Homo sapiens: one gene and its partners. The main gene of each other region encodes a partner of the protein of the gene in region 2 in a complex. Each region holds a gene or a part of one and is shown on either strand. Other genes may lie near its edges. A codon is read from its position in the direction of its gene.

Region 1 (6,923 bases), on a different chromosome or scaffold from region 2:
CTGTTACCTATTTTTACCTCAAGTACTTCTGCTACTCCCTTATAGTCAACTGAAACTCTTAAGAAATATCATAGAAAATCACAGAAAATCCTAATATGACTAGTACAGAATTCTTTTTTTTTTTTTTTTTTTTGCTTGAGACAGAGTCTCGTTCTGTAACCCAGGCTGGAGTGCAGTGGCATGATCTCAGCTCACTGCAACCTCCGCCTCCTGGGTTCAAGTGATTCTCCTGCCTCAGCCTCCTGAGTAACTGGGATTGCAGCCATGCACGACCACACCCAGCTTTTTTTTTTTTTTTTTTTTTGATACAGAGTTTCACTCTTGTTGTCCAGGCTGGATGGAGTACAATGCCGTGATCTCTGCTCACCGCGATCTCCGCCTCCTGGGTTCAAGCGATTTTTCTGCCTCAGCCTCCCCAGTAGCTGGGATTACAGGCATGCGGCACCACGCCCAGCTAATTTGTTGTACTTTTAGTAGAGATGGGGTTTCTCCATGTTGGTCAGGCTGGTCTCGAACTCCCAACCTCAGGTGATCCGCCTGCCCTCAGCCTCCCAAAGTGCTGGGATTACAGGCGTGAGCCACCACGCCTGGCTGACTCCCGGCTAATTTTGGTATTTTTAGTAGGGACAGAGTTTCGCTATGTTGGCCAGGGTGGTCTTGAACTCCTAACCTCAAGTGATCCACCTGCCTCAGCCTCCCAAAGTGCTGGGATTACAGGCATGAGCCACCACGCCTGGCCCAGAATTCTTAATATAGAATTGACAGTGAATCTAGCACTACGTTATTCTTGGGACCTGCAGGAATAACTTCTATCTTCAATGAACTTAATCAGAATTTTTAGTCAGAACATCTAGAAGAAGCCATTTAAAATTCAGATATGTAAGTTTTTTATCAATGTGGAACAAAAATTATTTTATTAAATTTAGTGAGGAGTTTCTGACAGTTTTTTGGTGTTCTAGACATGTAGAAATCTTTATCTGATCTGTCTTGAATTTACCCTGCTTTGATGTGCTAATAGAGGATATTATTGTAAATGTCAATTCACATAGTAAGAACAAGTGAACAACTTGCCATCAGGAGACACGAGTGATTTTTTTTTTTTTTTTGAGACGGAGTCTCGCTGTCGCTCAGGCTGGAGTGCAGTGGCGCGATCTCGGCTCACTGCAAGCTCTGCCTCCCGGGTTCACACCATTCTCCTGCCTCAGCCTCCCGAGTAGCTGTGGGACTACAGGCGCCCGCCACCTTGCCCAGCTAATTTTTTGCATTTTTAGTAGAGACCGGGTTTCACCGTGTTAGCCAGGATGGTCTCGATCTCCTGACCTTGTGATTCCCCCGCCTCGGCCTCCCAAAGTGCTGGGATTACAGGCGTGAGCCACCGCGCCCGGTCACAAGTGATTTTTTTTATGTGCATTTACTAATTCATTGTCTTACCCAGACCCCTTCTTAACAAAGGTAAGCATTTGTGAAATGGTTGACTAAAGTAAAGATACAATATAGTCATGGGGAAAAGAAGCAAAAACTGGTTAATATGAGTTTCGGTACAAAATCATTGATCTTAACTTTAGTATCAGAATGTTTCAACCAGCTAAGTCCAGCATTTCCTCCTTCCCATTACCACCAATCAAGCCTAGTATCGCTGTGCTTGTTTTGCCTCTTCTAAGGTACATTCAGTAAAAAAGCATTGTAAGCTAGGACTCTGTTGGCTTTGGTTTCTTTTCTTTTTTCCCCTTTCTTTCTTTTTATTATCTTCTATTCCCTCCTCCTAGGGTCATCACACTGAAACGGTGTTCAACCGGGTTTTGCCAGGGCCTATTGCACCAGAGAGCAGCAAGAAGCGGGCCCGTAGGATGCGACCAGACCTTTCTAAGATGATGGCCCTCATGCAGGGTGGAAGCACTGGGTCTCTATCTCTGCATAACACGTTCCAACACAGCAGTAGTGGCCTACAGTCTGTGTCATCTTTGGGTCACAGCAGTGCCACTTCTGCATCTTTGCCTTTTATGCCATTTGTGATGGGTGGTGCACCATCATCCCCTCATGTAGACTCCAGCACCATGCTTCATCACCACCACCACCACCCCCACCCCCACCATCACCACCATCACCATCCAGGCTTGAGAGCCCCTGGCTACCCCTCTTCACCAGTGACTACCGCCTCTGGTACTACCTTGCGGTTGCCACCACTGCAACCTGAGGAGGATGACGATGAGGATGAAGAAGATGATGATGACTTATCTCAGGGCTATGATAGCTCAGAAAGGGACTTCTCACTCATTGATGATCCTATGATGCCAGCTAACTCAGACTCCAGTGAAGATGCTGATGACTGAAGCCCCAGCATGGGCCCCATTGCTTGGGCGGCTGCTGTATTTTCATTTACTCTGGCCCTTGGACTATGGAAACGTGGGAGGGGCAGGGGAGATGTGGGGAAGTCCAGGACTCCAGGAGGTGAAAAGGAAAAAAAAAAAAAAATGTACCTGATTGCTCCCAATTATGAGAGGATTGGGTGGGCAGGGGAACTCCTAAAATAATACATGACCACTTCCTCATTTCTGGGGAAGGAAAGGAGACTAGAGCAGCTGGTGTGCTCACCCCTCCCTAGTCACCTCCATTAACCACAGACTATGTAGCGCTGGCCCTAGCCTCTGGCAGAGCCTGTTCCTGGCCGAACTGTGGATACAGCTGGAGGGTCAGGAACTGTTACCTTCTTTCCCCTTGGCATTAATAAATTTAAGTTAATCCTTTTCCACTCTTCCTTTGTTCTATGTTTGCTCAAACCCAGTGTATTGATTTTGAGTTGTTAATGGTGGGTAATTTCAGCACCACTTTCCTTAAGTTCAATACTGTTTATACTAAATTGCCTTACAGCAGACAAGTCATCTGTACTCCTCTAAAGGGTATATACAAATGTAGACTGTCCAGCTGGCTAAAGGCAAGGGAATTATTTAAGGTAAATGGTAGGTAGGCAAACTTCTGGATTCAAACTCCAAGTTTTTAGAAGAGACAGGGAGCAAGAATGTCATCAGGAACCATTTATGTTTTGTTTCTAATTAACTGAAGTAACGGTTATTTGGGGGAAGCCATAGAATAGTGCCAGTTTTCATGAACTGCAGCAAGGGGACTGGCCGACTGGAAGGATGCTGCCGCGACTTGGGCTCAGGGGGTGGGGTTGTGGGAAGGAACTAAAAGTTTGTAGAGCCCCTCAAGTCATCTGTTTCCTCTGACTTACACCATCCCACTGCTCAGTTAAAGCTTGCGCATATTATTTTCCTTTCGAAAACTAGGTTCCTCCCCCAGCTTGGGTCGTAGTTTATCACGAGGCTGGGCTCCATTTCCCTGGTATGAGTCCTCTGTCCCGGCGGAGCGCTTGACCCAGCATCCTGGCACCGAGGATCCCTCGAGTCCTGGAGCAGTCAAGGGCTTTTGCATTCCCATCATTTCTAGGAGGGGCGCATGCCCAGTTACACTGTAGTAGTCCCACTTTTATCCCACGCTAGATCCCGCTCTTTCCGCTCCCCCTTCCTTTGCAGATGGGGTGGAGCTATAACACCCGCGCGCGGCAGCTCTTGTGGGCGGGGCAGGCGCCGCCTCCTTCGCTTCGTCTAGGGACTGCCGCCTCGGCAAAAAGTCTGAGGTCCTGGAAACCGCCGCTGGGCTGAGAGTTAATAAGGGCGGAGGCAGACCGTCACGTGACGACGTCGATTCGCGTGCGGCAGTGGCGAAGTTGACAAACCCCGCGAAAATCGACTCTTTGCATCGCACATTTTGTTGATTTTCCCTCGTTTTTCTTTCTCTCTTTCCCCCGTCCATCCGAAAGAGGGTTGGAAAAAAACAAAACAAACAAACAAACAAAAAAAAAACCTAACGCTGTTGGGACCCGGAAGCGGAAAGGGCATCTTTGAGGTCGATACTTCCGGGTCATTGGGAGAGTGCGGGATTCCTGGGCCGAGAGCGGGTGGCTGAGCCGGGACCTCGCGTGATTCTCGGAACCCGAGGAGAAGCGGCGTCCGGGGCTATGGCTGTGACTCTGGACAAAGACGCTTATTATCGGCGAGTGAAGAGACTGTACAGCAATTGGCGGGTGAGGAAGATCCTGTAATTTTTCCTAGGGAGCCCCCTTAGCCATCCCATAATAACCCTGTTTCTCGGCGCCCTTTTTTCTCTTTCGGTCAGGAATTCCCGGGTTCTGTGCCTCACCCTTTTCGTTGCTCCCGAATCATTCACCGGAGGCGGCCACGAACGCTGCCCCTTAACAGGGAATCCCCCGCATTCACCCTGTCCTGCGGCCATCACCATCTTCCCCGCGTGCCAGCCTTGGTCATGCATAGCAGCACCTCTCGCAGTCTCTTCCCGCCCTAGAAGAGGCAACATCCTTCCCTCCTACTCCGTGGTCACGTCTTGCTGCCCTCCCCTGCCGTGTTCTCACGCACTCGCTCTGTCCCTCCAGAACCACAATATTCCACCCCTGGTCCCGCCAGGATTATAACCGTCTTCGTAAAGGAGAGATGGAAGGGCAAGGAGGATGTCAATCGGGCTTTTAGCGTTTATCGTTTGCGGGGCTTTTGCTGGAGTTAAAAAAAGAAATACTGCTCACGCGCAACCGCCTCATGTTCTAGGCCCTGCTGTGGGTTACAGAGAGGGACCTAACGCTGAAAGCCTGCAGGCATTAGTAATAACAAAACAAAACAAAACGATGCCTAAAACCTTATTAGTTCCTTGGTAGCGTATCCGGGGCACGTGTTCATTAAAAGAGCTGTGGCAGTTCCCAGTTTTTTAAAGATTCGGCAGTTTTGCTGCTCTAAAAACGTCCACAGTTAAAACTTATTTTTATGATGTTAACTTACTAATTGAGCAAACATTTGGTTGCATTCTGTGATGCAGTCTGAGTTGGCTAGCTTAAGTCTTGCCCCTGAACCCTGTCATCAAGGGAAGATACAGCTAATAAAGATTTTTTTTTAACCTGAAAAACGTTTTGAGAAAAATGATCAGCTCTCATTTCAGCATTGTAAATTATCTTTCAAACTGGTCATCTACTAAAACCAAGCCATTAAAATTGGTCGTTTCCTTGCCATTCATATTAAAGCTGTCTGTGCATGTTTCATCTTTTGGGGCTAAATACATTAGATAATTGAAAATAAAATTGATTCTCTTGCATTTTATGAAAAGGAAAAATAAGAACTAAATGCTAGATGAATACTGAACATTTTATTTTTTTTAATTTTTTGATTAATTTCTACCAAATGATTTTTTGCAGCTTCTCTCAGTGTCATATTATTCAAACATAATCGATGTTAGAAAAACATTTTAAAACCTTGATACTTTCTAATGATCAGTAAGTACTAAAAATCCGAAGCCCTCTCTTGTACCCATAAACCCTGAAACTGTGAACCTTTGGTATGAAAATTGTTTCTAGTCCCAGTGATTCAGATTCATCAAATAATTTCATTCTCTCTATACCATTCATGAAAACTAATCTATAGCTCTCACTTCCTCTACATGACAAATTAACTGTGGCCTGAAGACAGGTTGGCAAACCTAATAAAACTGATAGTCTTTAAATCCATGAAAGTTATTTCCCACCCACCATTTTTTTTTGTATCTCAAAAATCTTTAAAGTTTATCTTGGCCCTCTTACTACCTTAATGACATCATCTTGGGAGAATGTTAGATATTGATAAGACACTGATGGTGTAAAGTTATGAGCCAAATCTATGTAAAAATGTACCAGTTAACAAAACCTGTGGCTATTATGAAAAACTTACTTGAATAAGACTTTCTGCTTTTGTGTTAATGTGTCCAGAACCCACCTGTAGAAGTTCTTTGTGTATGCAGTCTTTTCACCCTACAGTGCTTTCATTCTGATACACTTAATCAGAGATAGTAGTTTTCTGGGTTAAATCTAGTCGCTTATCCTCCTGGATATAGCAGAAAGATAGTGGGATATATAGGTGTGTTGTATAACTTTTCTCTTTTACACCTTTTCCTTTTTTTAATAAGAAAACTGGGATTGAAATAGAATAAGTTGAAGTTAATGGTAAAAATTCCAAACCTGGCTGGGCACCGTGACTCATGCCTGTACCCAGCACATGAGGCCAGGAGTTAAAGACCAGCCTGGGCAAGATGATGAGACCCCCGTCTCTACAAAAAAAAAAAAAAGGCAAATAAATTAACCAGGCATGGTGGTGTGTGCCTATAGTCCTAGCTACTTGTGATGCTGAGGCAGAAGGATCCCTTGAGCCCAGGAGTTTGAGGCTGCAGTGAGCTGTAATCGCATCACTGCACTCCAGCCTGGATGAGACCCCGTCTTTAAAAAATAAATTAAAAAAAAAAAAAATAAATCCCAAGCCTTTTGCTTTCAGCTTCCATCTTAAAAAAAAAAACTGTTATGACTAAAATTAACTAAAAAATGATTTGGGCTCCAAACCCACTTTTAATTTTAAATACTCTTGATTATAAGCCCTTAAAAGCTGTAGTGGTTGAACCTGGTAGTTCCAGCAGTCCAAATACAAGTACACAGGGTTGTAGAGAACTGATAGGCTACTAAGCTTTTTCTTCCCTTTTTTAAAAATAAGAATAGGAATTAACCTTACCTATCTGCAAGTTAATTTTCAGTTAGGTACATATTTTGAGGCTATTGCAAATAAAATATTTTTTAATTATAATTTTCATAACTTATGTCCTAAAAACAATTGTAGTTACCATGTACTTTTAACTGAATAGAAATTTCAAAAATATTAAGCCCTGTATCTAAGTAAATCGTGTCATTTTAGAGATGGGAAAATGGAGTCAGTCAAAAATCAACAGGAGACCTTAGAACGTACTATTGTTTTATGACTCCTGGAGGTTTGAGTCTAGATCCAGTCTTGCCTCTTATGTTTTAAGTGAGAGCTGCTAAGAGCAGAAAGGATTTGCAGCACCTTCTC
Region 2 (7,788 bases):
ATCAGCTGAGGCTGATGAGGTCCCTCCGGCACCTCATCTCTGGGTGAGGTGGTGGATGGTACTGCCCCACTGTGGGGTAGGCTACACCACCTCTAGTCCTATACACGTCTAACTAGGATTTCCATGGATTCCACTTAGATATCACAGAGGCAGTGACTGCAAACCAAGTTCAATGGGGATATCTATATCATTTTTGCTTTCTCTACATCCACAAACAAAACAGCTTTTTTAACCCGACCTACCTCCTACAGAACTCTGAACGGAGAAGGTGGAAAGGGCCTTCAGCGGAAGTCCAGGTTACTTACTAAAGCGGAATGGAAGCCAACAGATACCAGCGTTTATATTTTATTCAACTTTATTAAAAATTAAAACTACAGAAACCAAACCGAATGCACAAATAAGAGAGTGGGGAAACAGACAGGGAGCAATGGCAGCTGATAACTGTGGCGAGTGGATAATCCGCATGACTCACATCCCACCCCTGCGACTGAGGAGCCCAGAACGCTGCGCTGGCACTGTCGTGCCCTCTTCCACCACAGGGGCACAGAAACCTGCAGGAGACTGAAAACGATTACAAACATCTTCAACCAGCTCTCTGGCCAAAGGCAGCAAAAGCAGCCTGAATACGCAACTCACGCCAAGAGGGCAGCAGCTCTCCTGACATCCATGTAAGAAGGCTAACACCTAAACCACACGCAGGCATCCTGAACTCAGCAGCTCTGATCCAAGGTACTGAGTGGAGACAAAGCACTCGGAGGTGGCAAGATGTTCAGCAACCAAGTAAGACACACTGGCAAGGCATCCCACCCAAAGGTGAGAAGCACAAAGCAGGCTTGGAGAAACAAACAGTCATGCCAGGTGCAGCCAGACATCCTGCTATAAGCCCTGACCCTAGTACCCCGAGTTCATCAAGTGCTCTGGTTTTGTGTCCATAAAGCACAGAGGGCACTGACCACCCCAAACCAGAATCCCAAGGAATCCTTATGGATGGCATAGGGCCTCAGAACTGCTGCAGGATCATTTTCCTTTTCAGGTCGTGGCTGAACTTGTTCATCCTGAAGAGCTCACTGTCATAAAATGCAGAGAGGTTGTGGATGTTGATCTGACGAGCCTGCAAGGAGGAAGTGTCCAGTGAGCCATCAGTGGTGTGAGAACAGGCTGTTTCCAGAGCGCCCCAGTTACAGTGCACTTTCAGACACCATCACCTCCATTTATGGGAGGAAAATATCCAGGGGTGGAGAGGCCGATTAAGGGGCTTCAAATCTCTGCTGTACAAGCTGTGCGTGTAAACTGAGACAAGTTACTTGGCTGCCCTGTATCTGTCTCCACCTCTGCACAACAGGAAGGCAGTAACAGGACTCACCTCACTCCCCTGCTGTCAGACTACAGGCACAGAACTGGACTCAACAGACTGTAAGCATTCAATAAATGGCTGTCAACCAAGGCCCACCCACTTCATGACCCATTATGATGGAGCCCCCATCAGGAGACTGGCAGCTCCCAAGTCAGCATACCCCAACCCTCACCTCCCTTCCGGGCCCATACCTTATCCACCAAGTCCTTCTCAGGGACCTCAATAGTGTCCTGCTGGGCCCCAAAGCGGTTGCGCTGATATGTCACCTGCTCTGCCACTAACTGCTTCAGTATGAAGAGCAACAGCTCATTGTTGTCACGCCGGAATGAAAGGTAGCGGGCAAAAGTCTGCAGGAAAAAAGCCTCAGTCAAACACCCGCTCCCACTACGCCTGCCACACTCCCTTTACCCTACGTGCCAGCACCCAGGTCAGACAGGCTGCCGCTCCTGGGTGCACGTCCAGGCCAGAGCCCTGGATACCCACGTGTGGCCTCCTTCACTGAGCTTGCCCATCAGGCCCCTACCTCGGAGCACACCCACCTTGCGCATGCTGCGCATGACGCTGAACTTCTGTGTGTCTATGAAGCTCTCCAGCATCACGCGGATGGCCATGTTGACGTCGTCTTCGATCACATAGTCCCGCAGATGGATGCGCGCGTGGGCCTCCGCCATGCGGATCATGGACTCGATGTGCCGCACCGTAATGGGGATGCTGCCTGTCGCCTGGAGAGAAGCACAGTGTCAGGTCTTTCACGGGCAGGAAAGAGAAGCAAGGAAAATAAAGCAGCGGCACTCTTAGCACCCAGAGCCAAGAAGACCCATCTGACAGTGCCCCAGCAGAAATGCAGAATGCTTGACTGCGCTGCCCAGTGAATGCACACTTCCTATCCCTCCTGGAAATCAGAGGATGCCAGTGGATGCTGCATGCTTACGGCCTGTCACCATCACACCTGCACAGTTCTGCTCCCACCAGCTGACTTCTGTGCATCTCAGAGGCTGTTGTATTTGTGGCCAGCTGTATTGGTTATTGTCACACACTAAATATTGAATAATCCTGTACAATGTAAGTGCAAAAAAAGGTCGTTGTTTGTAGGAAAACTAAATTGAATGATCTGAAAAAACTTGGTAAAGTTAAAAGGCAGAAATTTGAAAAGCTGCTGTGTTGACTGGGTGTGGCTGAGGCAGCAATCTACAAGGACTCGGCATTCCCATGGCTTGCAAGCTGCTTTAAGTTTCCATTCCACTATGAATGAGCCAAAGACCTTGTGTTCATTAGAGTGAAATTTACACAAAGTCAATATGGAACTTAATAAGCACATCAACAATTAAGGCCTTGGCCCTACACTGAGACAAATGAATGCACATTTAAATTTCATCTAAAACAAAATGGTTAAGGTATATATTAATACCTATCATTTAAAAAAATATTTTTTTTTTGAAACAGGGTTTCACTGTGTCACCAAGGCTAGAGTGCAGTGGTGCCATCATAGCTCACTGTAGCCTCGAACTCCTGGGCTCAAGTAGATCTTCCTTCCTTAGCTTCCTGAGTAGCTGGGACTACAGGCACAAACCACCAGGCCCAGCTAAGTTTCAAAACATTTTTTGTAGAGAAAGGGCCTCACTATGTTGCCCAGCCTGGTCTTGAACTCACCTCAAGCAATCTTCCTGCCTTGGCCTCCCAAAGTGCTGGGATTACAGGCATGAATCACTGTACCCAACTTTCATTTTTTGTTTTTGTTTTTGAGATGGAGTCTCACTCTGTCACCCAGGCTGGAGTGCAGTGGTGCGATCTCAGCTCACTGCACCCTCCGCCTCCCGGGTTCAAGCGATTCTCCTGCCTCAGCCTCCTGAGAAGCTGGGATTACAGGCATGTGCCACCACACCCGGCTAATTTTTGGGTTTCACCATGTTGGTCAGGCTGGTCTCAAACTCCTGACATCGTGATCCTCCTGCCTCGGCCTCCCAAAGTACTGGGATTACAGGCGTGAGCCACTGTGCCTGGCACCTACATTTTTTTTTTAATGCCTCCCTGCTCTGGCACCTTTTGGCCTGACTGACCACCACCCCCGCTGCATTGGTCAGAAGGCTCACACTGCACTTCCTTCTCTGCATAGCACCTCCCGGCTCTGCCTGGGCTCTCACCATAGATTCTTTCCTCAGGTCACTGTACATCTTGGCCACCTTGTCCTGGTCCATCTGGTTGAGCTTCGGGTGGACCCTCTCCTTGGCGTAGATGATGTACTTCTTCAGGACCTCCTGGGGCAGGGGCTCCACGCCATACGTGTTGGGCATGGCGGGCTCAGCAGCGCTGCCATTGGCCAGCCCCTCCTCCTCCTTGTTGCTGGGGTGGTGTCTGACGTGGCTGCCCACCACGAAGCGGGCCAGCATCTCGTCCTAAGATAAGCCATGAGAGGGTGGGTCTGATTGTGGGTGTGCGTGGCTTTGGGGAGGTCAGTGGCTGGAGAAGGGCTGAGTGTGCCCTACAAGGGTGACACTCTTTCAACAAGACTGACTACACTGACCATGTGCCAGGCAGTTCTGGGTGTGGGTGGCAAACCAGACAATGGGACAGAGTCCCCACAGGGCTCATCTCCACAAGGGGACAGGAGACAAATAGTCTTAAAAATTAATTATGGAAAGTAATGCTCAGAAGAAAAATAGAGTGATAGGATCAAGGGACCAAGGAGATGCCTCTAGCTAAGGGTGCCCGGCAAAGCCCCTCCCTGAAAGACAGGGAGCTGAGATGACGACAATGAGATGCAAGTCATGTGACAGTGTGGGAGAGCGTCTGCCAGGAGCAAGGAGCACAATCAAGCCCCAAGGCTCGGCCCTTTTGAGAGAGAAGGGCAGGTGCAGGTGCAGGTGAGGGAAGGGAGCGAGGAGGAGGTAGCTGCAGAGATGGCGGGTGCGGGCCGGAGGGGAGGACCCTGGATTCTATTCTGATGACAGCAGAAAGCCTCAAGCAGTTGTTAAGGACGGGGCTGATCTGATTTATGCCTTCAACTGGAAGACAGTCTACATGGGTGCCAGGAGGCCAGTTCAGATGATGGTAGTGCCTCAAGTCAGAGGCAGAAGTGAGGGAGGTGGGTAGGCTCAGGAGTTGGGACAACAGGATTTGGTGGATTGTGGGTTATGTAGGGTGGGGGTCGGGGGTGCTGTGAAGGAAAGAGAAATCAGGGCGACTTCTGGACATGAGAAGAGACCGAGGGAACAGGACTAGAAAACAGCCTATGGCCCCTGCAGCACCTGTCCCCTGTGTTGGGCACACTGTATGACCCCAAGCCTCACCTGAGGTCCCCAAACCACAGTTCATGGAAACCGGGCACATGTGAGCTATACCTGGACTGGGTCCACGGTGTCCCTCACCACACACAGGATGTCAAAGCGTGAGATGATGGGCTCTGTGAGGTCCACGTTCTCAGAGAAAGTCAGCGAGGGGTCGTAGCGCCCTCCTGAAACACAGGGGAGCACCTCCATCAGGGTGGATTCCCCTATCCTCCCATCTCAGGGACCCCAGGCTGCTCTGATGGCAGAAGGGGATGAGGGCAGTGGAAGAGGAAGACATAGGTGGGTACTTAGCACCTGCTGTCTGAGACAGCAAAGAGCTTACCCTAACCAGGGCCCAAAATAGCCTAATTTAGACAGAAAGCATAACTGCTTCCCCAGGAGGAAAAACCAAGAACACAGTGGGTGACAGAGCCTGGGTTCTTTTACGCATTCGCTGCTGAGACCAACAGCCAACTCCATCCTGGCCAGAGGGGCACTGGGCTCTCCTCCCATGCCTTCTGAGAACATCCAAGGTGATTCCAGGAACATGACTCAACAGGAAACCCAGGTGTCCCAGGTCCCACTTTCACTGTTCCCCACTCTGGCAGGATATGCAGAAGAGGGGAACCCTCTGCTGCACAATGACTTCCTCAGATCGGCTCCTGGGGACCCCGTGGGCTCCCAATTCAAGCAGGCGGGACCTCCCTGTGTCCCACCCCAGCCCCAGCAGTCAGGGTGCCTGCTGCACCTATGGGGTTGGCGGCAGCAATGACCGTGCAGCGAGCCTGCAGGGAGGTGACGATGCCAGCCTTCGAGATGGAGATGCTCTGTTGCTCCATGGCCTCATGGATGCTGGTTCTGTCCTGGTCATTCATCTGCAAGATTAAAATGGCCCACCCTTAGCATGGTTCACGCCCCTACTACTAAGTCTCCGATGAGGTCCCAATGGACCCCATTAACACCATTCCCGTCGCTAAGGCCCAAGCCCACACACACCCCCTGAGTTCCACCAGCCTCCGTGACCCAGGGACCCACCTTGTCAAATTCATCAATGAGACACACTCCTCGGTCAGCCAGAACCAGGGCCCCAGCCTCCAAGGTCCACTCCCTGCTGACAGGGTGCCGCTGGACATACGCCGTGAGGCCCACAGCCGACGCCCCCTGGCCAGTGGTGAAGATGGCTCGGCTGGACACTTTCTCAATATACTTGAGAAACTGCGACTTCGCTGTGCCAGGGTCTCCGCACAAGAGCACGTTGATATCACCACGTACCTTGTGCTTGCCACCTGGAGGGGATGAGTAGAAGCGGGGGAGGGGGAGAGTGGGAAGTGAGAGGAGGAGGGCACAGTTGCATCCCCCACCAATTCCTCAACCTACTTGTTAGGAATGGTAAGGCACAGTCCCTCTAGAAAGGGATACAATGCCCTACGCCATGCAGTCCCACTCTGGGCACTCCCAGGGAAACACACACGGGTGCAGAGGAGGGTTGCACGAGATGTCCTTGGCGAATGTGAAATATCAGAAACAATCTAAGTGTTCTCCAAAGGGAGAGCTAAATAAACTGCGTTATCTGGTGGCATGATAGTCATTTAAAAGAAGGCAATTGCTCTGTATGCACTAACAAGAAAAGATGCTGCAGTGTGGCACTGAGCGGGAGAGCTCGGTGGGATGCACTGCGCACAGGCACAGCACTGGGCACACACAGGGGACGCTGCGCTTGTACAAATAAACACGTGTAGTCATGAAACCCTGTGGTTGCTGTGTAATTGTAAATGGCCACAAAGGGAGGGACTAGGAAGAGAAGTGGGGGTCAATGGGGAAATCAGCCTCACCCATGACTTTTAGTGTTCTATAAAAGTGTAATATAAATACAAACTCATGTGTCAATAGTATTTTTGTACTTAAAACAGGTTTTTAAAAGACAAAGTATTTTTTACATAGAAGAGAAGCAAAGACTCATTTGCTTAAATCACAAAAGCAGGCAGACACTGGCTCCCTGACCAACAGCCCAACACCCAGAATGCCCAACTCAGGGCCACCCTCTCCCTTGAAGAATGAGTCACGCCCAGCCAGACCATCTTTTAATGCATTCTTTCTCCCCAGCACCCAGGCTTTAAAAACACTGTGTCCTTCTTTGAATGCTGGCTCCCCAAAGAGAAAGCTGCTAACACCCCTGCAGAGGAAAGGTGGGTGCTCACCTGGGTTTTTGGGCTCCCCTCCGAACAGGGCCAGAGCCAGGCCTCTCTTGATGTCTTCATGACCATAGATGGAAGGAGCAATGCTGGCAAAGATCTGAGAAAGGGAGGGAGACCGACAAGAATGGGAACAGATACTCACAGAGTAGGTCACCCACATGCTCTGGCATCAGGGAACCACGACATCCCCAGCTCAAAGACACCCACTTCCACAGCTGCTGCAACTGCATCAGGCCCTGGTATCAAGCCGTGCCCGACTCTAAAGCTTTTCATTAGTTGGCTCTTCCCAAGAGTCACAGAACTTTGGAGTTTAGAAGAACCTTCATCTGAACCCCTAATCTTGACATATTTCAGAAAGGCCTTTCCCAAGATCACAGACCAAGAGCAGAAATAAGACCAGAACCAGGTCTGTCATGGCACTGGCCTACCTCAAGCCTCAGTTTCTTCATATGGAAAAGAGAGATGGCAACATCCAACTCACAGAAGGGTGGGTACAAATGCGACAGTTCATGCAAGTGCCTGCCTCGTCAATGCAATAAATGTGGCACATCTGGGAGATGTGTCCACCAGGAAGTAATTCCAACTAGTGAGTCACTGGAACATTTCTATTTCAGTGTGTGTGTGAGAGAAAGAAAGAGACAGGGAGAGAGCAAAATCTTCATGAATTTTAGATAGAATTAGAGACATCAAAGACATTTCTTGCTTGTAGGAGACTGCTTCCAACTCCACCTGCAGCAGAGCCATGTTTTGATAGCTTTCAGCCTTCATACCCCCCTGCACTGGCCACACCCACATCCTTCCCTCCTTGTAGGACAGACAAAGAAGCTCAGAAAGCACTGGCCCTCGCCTGGGGAGAGGGGACTAAGGCAGGAAAACCAGCCCTGAAGGTGGAGGGGAGACACCCCCATCAGGCTGCATCCTGTATGTCCTGCCTGCACCATCAAATTCATGCAGCTTTAGAGGTGTCTCTAAC
Region 3 (7,055 bases), on a different chromosome or scaffold from region 2:
GAGGCCAAGGTGGGAGGATCACTTGAACTCAGGAGTTCAAGACCTGCCTGGGTAACATAGTGAGACCTCAGTTCTATAAAAAAGAAAAGAAATGAGCCTGGTGTGGTGGCATGTGCTTGTAGTCCCAGCTACTAGGGAGGCTGAGGTGGGAAGATGGCTTCAGTCTGAGAGTTCAGGCTGCAATAAGCTGTGATCATGCCTCTGCACTCCAGCCTGGGTGATGGAGATGCCATCTCTTAGAAAAAAGAGAAAAAAAAAAAAAAAAGGCAAATGATGCAATTGCCAGGATACAGGTATTTCCAATTTCTCTCCTGGAAACCCAATTTACTCCATGGGACTGGTGGTGCCTTGTGAACAACCCCAGTTTAAAATGACTTCTCCCCAGTAGTCAGAAGAACCAACATCAATAAACTCAGTTTTAACATCTATTTACCTAATTTCAAAGCAGCCTTCCTTTGCCAAGTGTTCCTAGAGCATTGTTTACAAAATATCACAAGAACACCTTAGGGCAACAACTATAAGAGGCCCCAACACCCCTTGTGAATTTTCTAAGTAGCAATTAATGCTATTAATACTGAGGATGATGATACATTAGGACCCCCTATCCCAATAAGACACCGTTTCCTTGTATTCAAATTCTCTCTTTAAATTCAGCATCCCCCTAAGGTTTGTTGAACAGTCTATCAAAACTATGCCATTTTCTCCTCAAATTCTAGGGAAGTTTCTCAAGCTAACAGTCTACTGTGAATGCAGCTGTGCTCAGTTTCATCTCAGGAAATGATGAACGACTTAAGATAATTGTCAGCTTGAGTCTTAGCAGATGTAGCCTATGAACCAAAATGGTCTTGATATACACTCCACCGTTCCCCTCAAGCTCACCAGAAAGGGTGCAGCCTCTTATCTAGGCAAAACAGGCCCTTCAAATTTTCACCGGAAACAAAAAGGTCAGCTTTCTCTCTGCCAGCGTCTCTTATGTAAAAGCTGCAGAAAAGTTCCTGAGGGCACTCAGGAAGGCAGCAGTGGTCCTAAAAGTTGTGTGCTCCTTAAGAGAATCTAACGCCCGATGATCTAAGGTTTCATCCTGAACCACCCCCCCAACTCTCCTCACCCCCACTGTCACTGGAAAAACTGTCTTCCACAAAACAGGTACCTGGTATCAAAAAGGCTGGGGACCGCTAAGCTAAAGTTTTTCTTTAAAAAAAAAAAAAAGAAAAGAAAAATTCTGTATCCAACTCAAGAATCAAATTCGGGGCAAAGGCCCAAACATCTGCACTTTTAACAAGACGGTGTCTGCCATTCTCTTCTTACCCCCTCAACCGAGTAAGGATCACTGCCCATCCTGTGTACCCGGGTTCCACTAACTTTATCTCCTGAGGAATGCCTCAGGAATGCTACAAGAATTGGCCTACATGAAAAAATATTTCAGTGCTACTTTACTATGGTAATATTTAAACAATCTATGCAATAAAAATCATCTTGAGCACAACATGCTAGAAAAAGTTTCTCTTGATGAACTGGTATGCCCATTTTATTAGATCGAAACTATAGACCAAGTTAACCCTAGTCCTTATTTCTGGAGTTTTATGTTTACTTCTACTGCTGTAAATACTCTCAAATCCTTTTTGGAAGCAGTCAAAATATAAATCCACAGTATTCAAAATCTTACCCTCCTTTTCCTTGCATTCATCTTTTGTTTCGATTCTTTGACAAAGGCATTATAGGATGGGACCTCTCCGGCGTCAATAGCTTGCTGAATGATATTCCTTATCCTGGGTTCCTCTGTGTACTGCACGCAAAGCACAGACTCCATGATCTGATCCATGTCACCCTTGAAGTCCAGATAGGCCTGCTTAATATCAGCCAGCTCTTCTTCCGAACCTTTGTATGTCTTTTCAAAAGCTTGAATGTCCTCTAAAGATATCTGATGATAAAGGAGATTTGCTTTAACTTTGGGAATTTTACTTTAAATAAAACGTACGTTAGTAAAACTAGAGTTGGGTGTTGAATTGCTGCAATACAACAGTTGCTTGAGTTGAAATTATTGAACCAGATTTTCTATGCCTAAGCTTCTCCGGAGTCCTCCTTTTTAAATCCAATCTTCATTAACTGCTAACTAGGGACCAGGGAAGGGAAATTTAAGTGAAATTTCCAAGAGTGAGAGGTGATCCGGAATCAGGACTTACATTTGGATATGTAAAATAAAGCGCATCCGGCAAAAAAAATAAATCGGCCCTTTTCAGTGCAACAATCACATTAACAGGAAATTTAAAGCCCGTTTCAGTAAGCGTGCGTGTATCTGTATTTCAAGGCCAAACTCAAAATTCCTAATTCCTACAAAATTAACACAAAATACAAGATCTTAGAGGCAGTCAATAAAGGTTTGTTGATTGAATGATGGTAACAGTCACAAAGAAACCTCCAGAGTCCTTTACCTTTTTAAAGAGTAGCCGCCAATACGCCTCCCAGTCTCGGTCTTGGGTGAGCACAGGAGAGTCCTCGTCCACTGTTCCCTGCTCATCGTACACTGCTCTCTGTTCTCTGTCACTGAGAACGGAATAGACTTTTCCCAGGATCTGAGGGCAAAGAGTATCCGTAAATCACCCCTGCTCCTCCCACCGAAACGGCGGCGCGAGAAATAAAGATCAGAAGGCGCCAAGCGGAGCTCAGCGCGCTCCCCCGGGGCGGGGCCCGGTAGCCAAAAGGCTAGGGGGAGGCCCGCGCAGCCGGTCGGCTTCGGGGCGGGACCCTGCATACCTGGAAGCGGCGGGTGGCGTCCTCCTTGTCGCCCTCACCCACCCGGTCCGGGTGTACCTGCAGGGACACCTTGTGGTAGCCTCGTCGGACCTCGCCGTCGGAGGCCTCGCGTCGCACGCCCAGCACCCGGTAAAGGTCGGCGGTGCCGAACACTTCCTCGCAAAGGTCCAGCAGCCCCATGCCGGGCGGAGATACGACCCCGGAGGAAGCAGCCGCTCCCAGCTGCGCCGGGTACAACCCAGGACTGCTTCTTTTTCGCGCCCAAAAAGCCCAGGGCGCCTGCGTCACAAGCACTGAAGGGGCGTGGCCACGCCGCGCATCCGCGCTTTACGGCGGCCGCAAAATGAGGTGTGGCGAGTCAGGCGCGGGCCCGGGTAAGTAACGCCGGCATGTGGAGTCACAGTCCCCGGCCGCGCGCAGGAGCTAGGTCTTCAGGGAAGTGATGTTGCTCGGGTCTCTCCTCCCCTTGCTCTGGAAATCTGGCGTCCGTCTTACCTTTTAGTGTCCAAGAACAACTTTTTCAAAAAGTTCATATATTAGCTTGAATTTACAAACTGCTGGCCTATTTTTTTAAGTAGAAAACGGCCAAACATCAGCATTCAGCAGTTACACATGGTTCAACTTAACAGATGTGTTTTTTCAAAAATGTTCTTGAAAGGAATAGGTAAAGCTGTAGACCCAAATAATTTTGCACCCCACTGGTTGGAAATGCTGGGGTACTTTCCCTCTAGCCCTGTAGGAAAAAACCCTATACTGAAACCCAAAAAGCACAAAACACGGGTCTTCCAAAAACTCTTACCTAATAGGACTTTCACCTTACACATTGGTGGAGAGAGATAACATGACCCAAGCCTCCGTCTTAATAACATAAACTGCTGAAGCAAAGGCTCTTTCTTTTAATACTCTGTGAAGTTCACAGCTGGGTTTGAACATGTTGGATCCCAGGTGGCAGCAGAGTGGGCTGGAGCAATCATCCAAGAGATGGTGAGAAACTTGGGCCTGGAGACCCAAAGCAAGGTTGAGGCTGGGGATAAAACTTTGTTAGTAGGGTAAACTCACAGAGGAAGTATGTGTATACATATCTTAAAGGATAAACAATGCTAAGTGAATACCCGAGTTGGCAGAAAATACCTTATCAAATATCCCCTCACTGATGTAGCATTTTTCAGAATCATTCTGCTCTGCCAATAAGTTTCTGCAAAGCCTCAAACTCTCCAGGATACATTAATATCTTTTAAACTTCCCAGAGTTGCCGTGATTTTCAAAGCATTTCTCTTTCCCAGATCCAAGATCAAACTCAGCTGAAGTCAGTTCCTCTCAACCTGCCCTGGCATCAAAGTCTCAAAGCAAGTGGGGGCCAACCAGCAACAACCCCAGGGGAGCTTTGACAACCACAGAATTTGAGATGGCTGGTAATCGTTCTCAGAACATAAAACACAAAGTAAGTCGGCACATTGATAGAACCTCCTCTATAAATTTCCTATATCTTAGTCACACACCAGAGTTAAGCCATCTGTCTTTGCTCATTTTTCCCTCTATGGACAACATAATATGTTGGGAAGGGCTTTCCAGGAGGGCATAACCGGGAGATGAATCTTACATCACTGGGCAAGTTTCCACCTCTAGGCCTCAGCTTCCCTATCTGTAAAACGGAGATAATCCTACCTGCCTTCATAATACCTTACAATTGTCACAAATAACCTTGTACACAAAAGGCCTAGGATATATGTAGATGCTTTGCAATATTATCTTTCTTCCAGTTTCTTGTATTTTTTAAGGTATTCAAATACATCTATTTTAACATTTTTCTATATATACATTTGCTACGGAAAATTGAAATCGCACACTGAAATATCCTTTTATTGCAACTCAAATTTTCAAAAACCAGAAAATCAAATTATTATGCTCTAGCCAAATTATGTAATGTTTTCTTTTTCTTTTCTCTGTCACCCAGGCTGGACTGTAGTGGAACAATCACAGTTCACTGCAGCATCGGCCTCCTGGGCTCAAGTGATCTTACTGCCTCAGCTTCCCGAGTAGCTGGAACTATGGGTGAGCAACACCACAGCCAGCTAATTTTTTAAGTTTTTGTAGAGACGGGGTCTTGCTGTGTTGCACAGGCTGGTCTCAAACTCTGGCTTCAAGTGATCCTTCCACCTCAGCCTCCCAAAGTGCTGAGATTACAGGTGTGAGCCACTGCCCCAATGGTATCTTTATATTATTTTTCCTTACAAGTTACTTCAAATTCTTGATGTTGAATTTCATCTCACTGACTTCAGGCTTTTAAAACACATGGGAATACTTGAGACCTAAGAATGGTTGTGAGTCAAATAAAAAAGTAGAACTAAAGTATACTGAAGTTATTCAAATACATTCAAACTATAAAGATCCCTTATAGATTACTGGCATCAAGGTAGGAAGGAAAAGATACAAGAAGTAAAATGCAACACTCATTACAGGTTGTCAACATTATTGGTATACAGTTTATCCTAACACAGAGCAGCCTTCTTAACCTGCTCCATAAAATTACCAGCAAGAAAGAAAAGTACAAGAATAAGGTTCACAGCTGAATTGGCTTGGTGTCCTAATTCCCTATTCCAGTATTCTCAGAAGGATCCCATCTATGATATATGCAGAAATCACAGCCACATTTGAATGGTTCAATCTTGATTCATACTGAACTCCCTTAAGCCCAGCAGTTTCTCATTCTTAAAAGGTAGGTTATTAGAGCCCCAAAGCAATTTTCATAACAAATCTACCTTTGTATATTTAAGAATATGCATTAAGGCTAGGAGTGGTGGCTCACGCCAGTAATCCTAGCACTTTGGGAGGCCGAGGTGGGCAGATCACAAGGTCAGATTGAGACCATCCTGGCCAACACGGTGAAACCCCATCTCTACTAAAAATACAAAAATTTGCCCGGGCGGTGGCTCACGCCTATAATCCCAGCACTTTTGGGAGGCCAAGGCGGGCGGATCACGAGGTCAGGAGATCAAAACCATCCTGGATAACATGGTGAAACCCCATCTCTACTAAAAATACAAAAAAATTAGCTGGGTGTGGTGGTGGGCACCTGTAGTCCCAGCTACTCCTGGGACTACTCGGGAGGCTGAAGCAGGAGAATGGCATGAACCCAGGAGACAGAGCTTGCAGTGAGCCGAGATCGCGCCACTGCACTCAAGCCTGGGCGACAGAGCGAGACTCCTCTCAAAAAAAAAAAAAAAATTAGCTGGGTGTGGTGGTGCATGCTTGTAGCTCCCCGGCTACTCAGGAGGCTGAGGCAGGAGAACCTCTTGAACCCAGGAGGTGGAGATTGCAGTGAGCTGAGATTGCACCACCGCACTCCAGCCTGGCAACAGAACAAGACTCCGTCTCAAAAAAAAAAAAAAAAAGAGAATATGCATTAGGCAAGACAATATAAACCTCCAATTACAAAAATCAATTAAGAAAGGTTAACTGTTCTTGCACTTGTGGGATGAACATGAAGATCTGAATGGGCCATGAATAGTCTGGCTGGGGGTTTTGAAGCAGGAAGTCTTGGAAGCCAGTAAATTGTAAAGTTGTCCAAGAGACCCAGAGCCCAACTCAAAAGTCCAATCCTCCCATAGCCACTGTCTATCCCAAGACAAAGTCGAAAAAAGCTAATTAGTACCCACACCCAGCTCTAAGTCACACAAGAACAAATCTCTCCCTGGGCCCTGTGCAGGCCAGGCCAGAAGAGCAAGGGCAACTCAGGATACTCCATTTATTGAACTCCAAATCTAACAAAATTAAGATCGCTGCAGTGTTTCAAAAGGACCTTGACCTTGTTCCCACTGCTATGCTCACTAAAGTCAGCTCATTTATGTTTCTGTAGCCTCTGTATCTGTAGCTTCTGCATCTGTTTTCTGAGAAGCTAACAGGACTTCACGTGCCCGTTTCCTTCGCAGTCTCTCAGCATTTGTGATCATCATAGGATGCAGAGGGAAAAAGCCAGCAAGACCTAAAAGTAACAGATTTTTCACTTATTATAACACAGTATAAGCCAATGCTTCCCTAGGAACTCTGTCTCACAGAACTGAGGTCTGAGATCTGACCCAGTGCATGGATGCAAACCATGCTCCTCACTTGCCAAACTCTGTACTACTTCTCCCCGGCAAGGAGACAGTGGATGTCTACTTCCCTAACAATATTCCCCTTACTTTAAAAAACGTAAACTGACAGATGGCCATTCAAAACATACTATTCCTATTTTTAGCATAAAATACCAGTCACCCAAAGTCTTACAAAGGAGTCCACAAAAGGGGCCTCCAGATTCAAAA

The links. The genes of interacting proteins can lie anywhere in the genome.
Region 1: the proteins of MCM2 (region 2) and SUPT16H are in contact, whole or in part, in a crystal structure (PDB 8YJF), measured with the Homo sapiens proteins. Residues at the interface, in NP_004517.2 of Homo sapiens: Ile73, Gly74, Asp75, Met77, Tyr81; in NP_009123.1 of Homo sapiens: Gln898, Ser899, Leu900, Asn901, Lys904.
Region 3: the proteins of MCM2 (region 2) and DNAJC9 are in contact, whole or in part, in a crystal structure (PDB 7CJ0), measured with the Homo sapiens proteins. Residues at the interface, in NP_004517.2 of Homo sapiens: Glu65, Glu66, Glu67, Asp68, Glu104; in NP_056005.1 of Homo sapiens: Lys185 (codon at 1,690), Arg189 (codon at 1,678), Arg192 (codon at 1,669), Lys244.

What each region holds. Positions count from the first base shown.
Region 1 is NC_000014.9:21,381,020-21,387,942, reverse strand, and holds the start of SUPT16H (FACT complex subunit SPT16), read left to right. Parts: upstream 1-3,923; 5' UTR 3,924-4,015; coding exon 4,016-4,081; intron 4,082-6,923. Other genes in the region: CHD8 (chromodomain-helicase-DNA-binding protein 8), read left to right, coding at 1,767-2,330. UniProt on the Homo sapiens protein: Component of the FACT complex, a general chromatin factor that acts to reorganize nucleosomes. The FACT complex is involved in multiple processes that require DNA as a template such as mRNA elongation, DNA replication and DNA repair.
Region 2 is NC_000003.12:127,614,986-127,622,773, reverse strand, and holds the end of MCM2 (DNA replication licensing factor MCM2), read right to left. Parts: intron 6,913-7,788; coding exon 6,819-6,912; intron 5,907-6,818; coding exon 5,656-5,906; intron 5,496-5,655; coding exon 5,369-5,495; intron 4,806-5,368; coding exon 4,693-4,805; intron 3,748-4,692; coding exon 3,496-3,747; intron 2,077-3,495; coding exon 1,894-2,076; intron 1,702-1,893; coding exon 1,546-1,701; intron 1,112-1,545; coding exon 1,001-1,111; 3' UTR 338-1,000; downstream 1-337. UniProt on the Homo sapiens protein: Acts as a component of the MCM2-7 complex (MCM complex) which is the replicative helicase essential for 'once per cell cycle' DNA replication initiation and elongation in eukaryotic cells.
Region 3 is NC_000010.11:73,244,256-73,251,310, forward strand, and holds the start of DNAJC9 (dnaJ homolog subfamily C member 9), read right to left. Parts: upstream 3,001-7,055; 5' UTR 2,935-3,000; coding exon 2,755-2,934; intron 2,574-2,754; coding exon 2,433-2,573; intron 1,922-2,432; coding exon 1,667-1,921; intron 250-1,666; exon of another isoform or gene 1-249. Other genes in the region: MRPS16 (small ribosomal subunit protein bS16m), read right to left, coding at 6,597-6,736.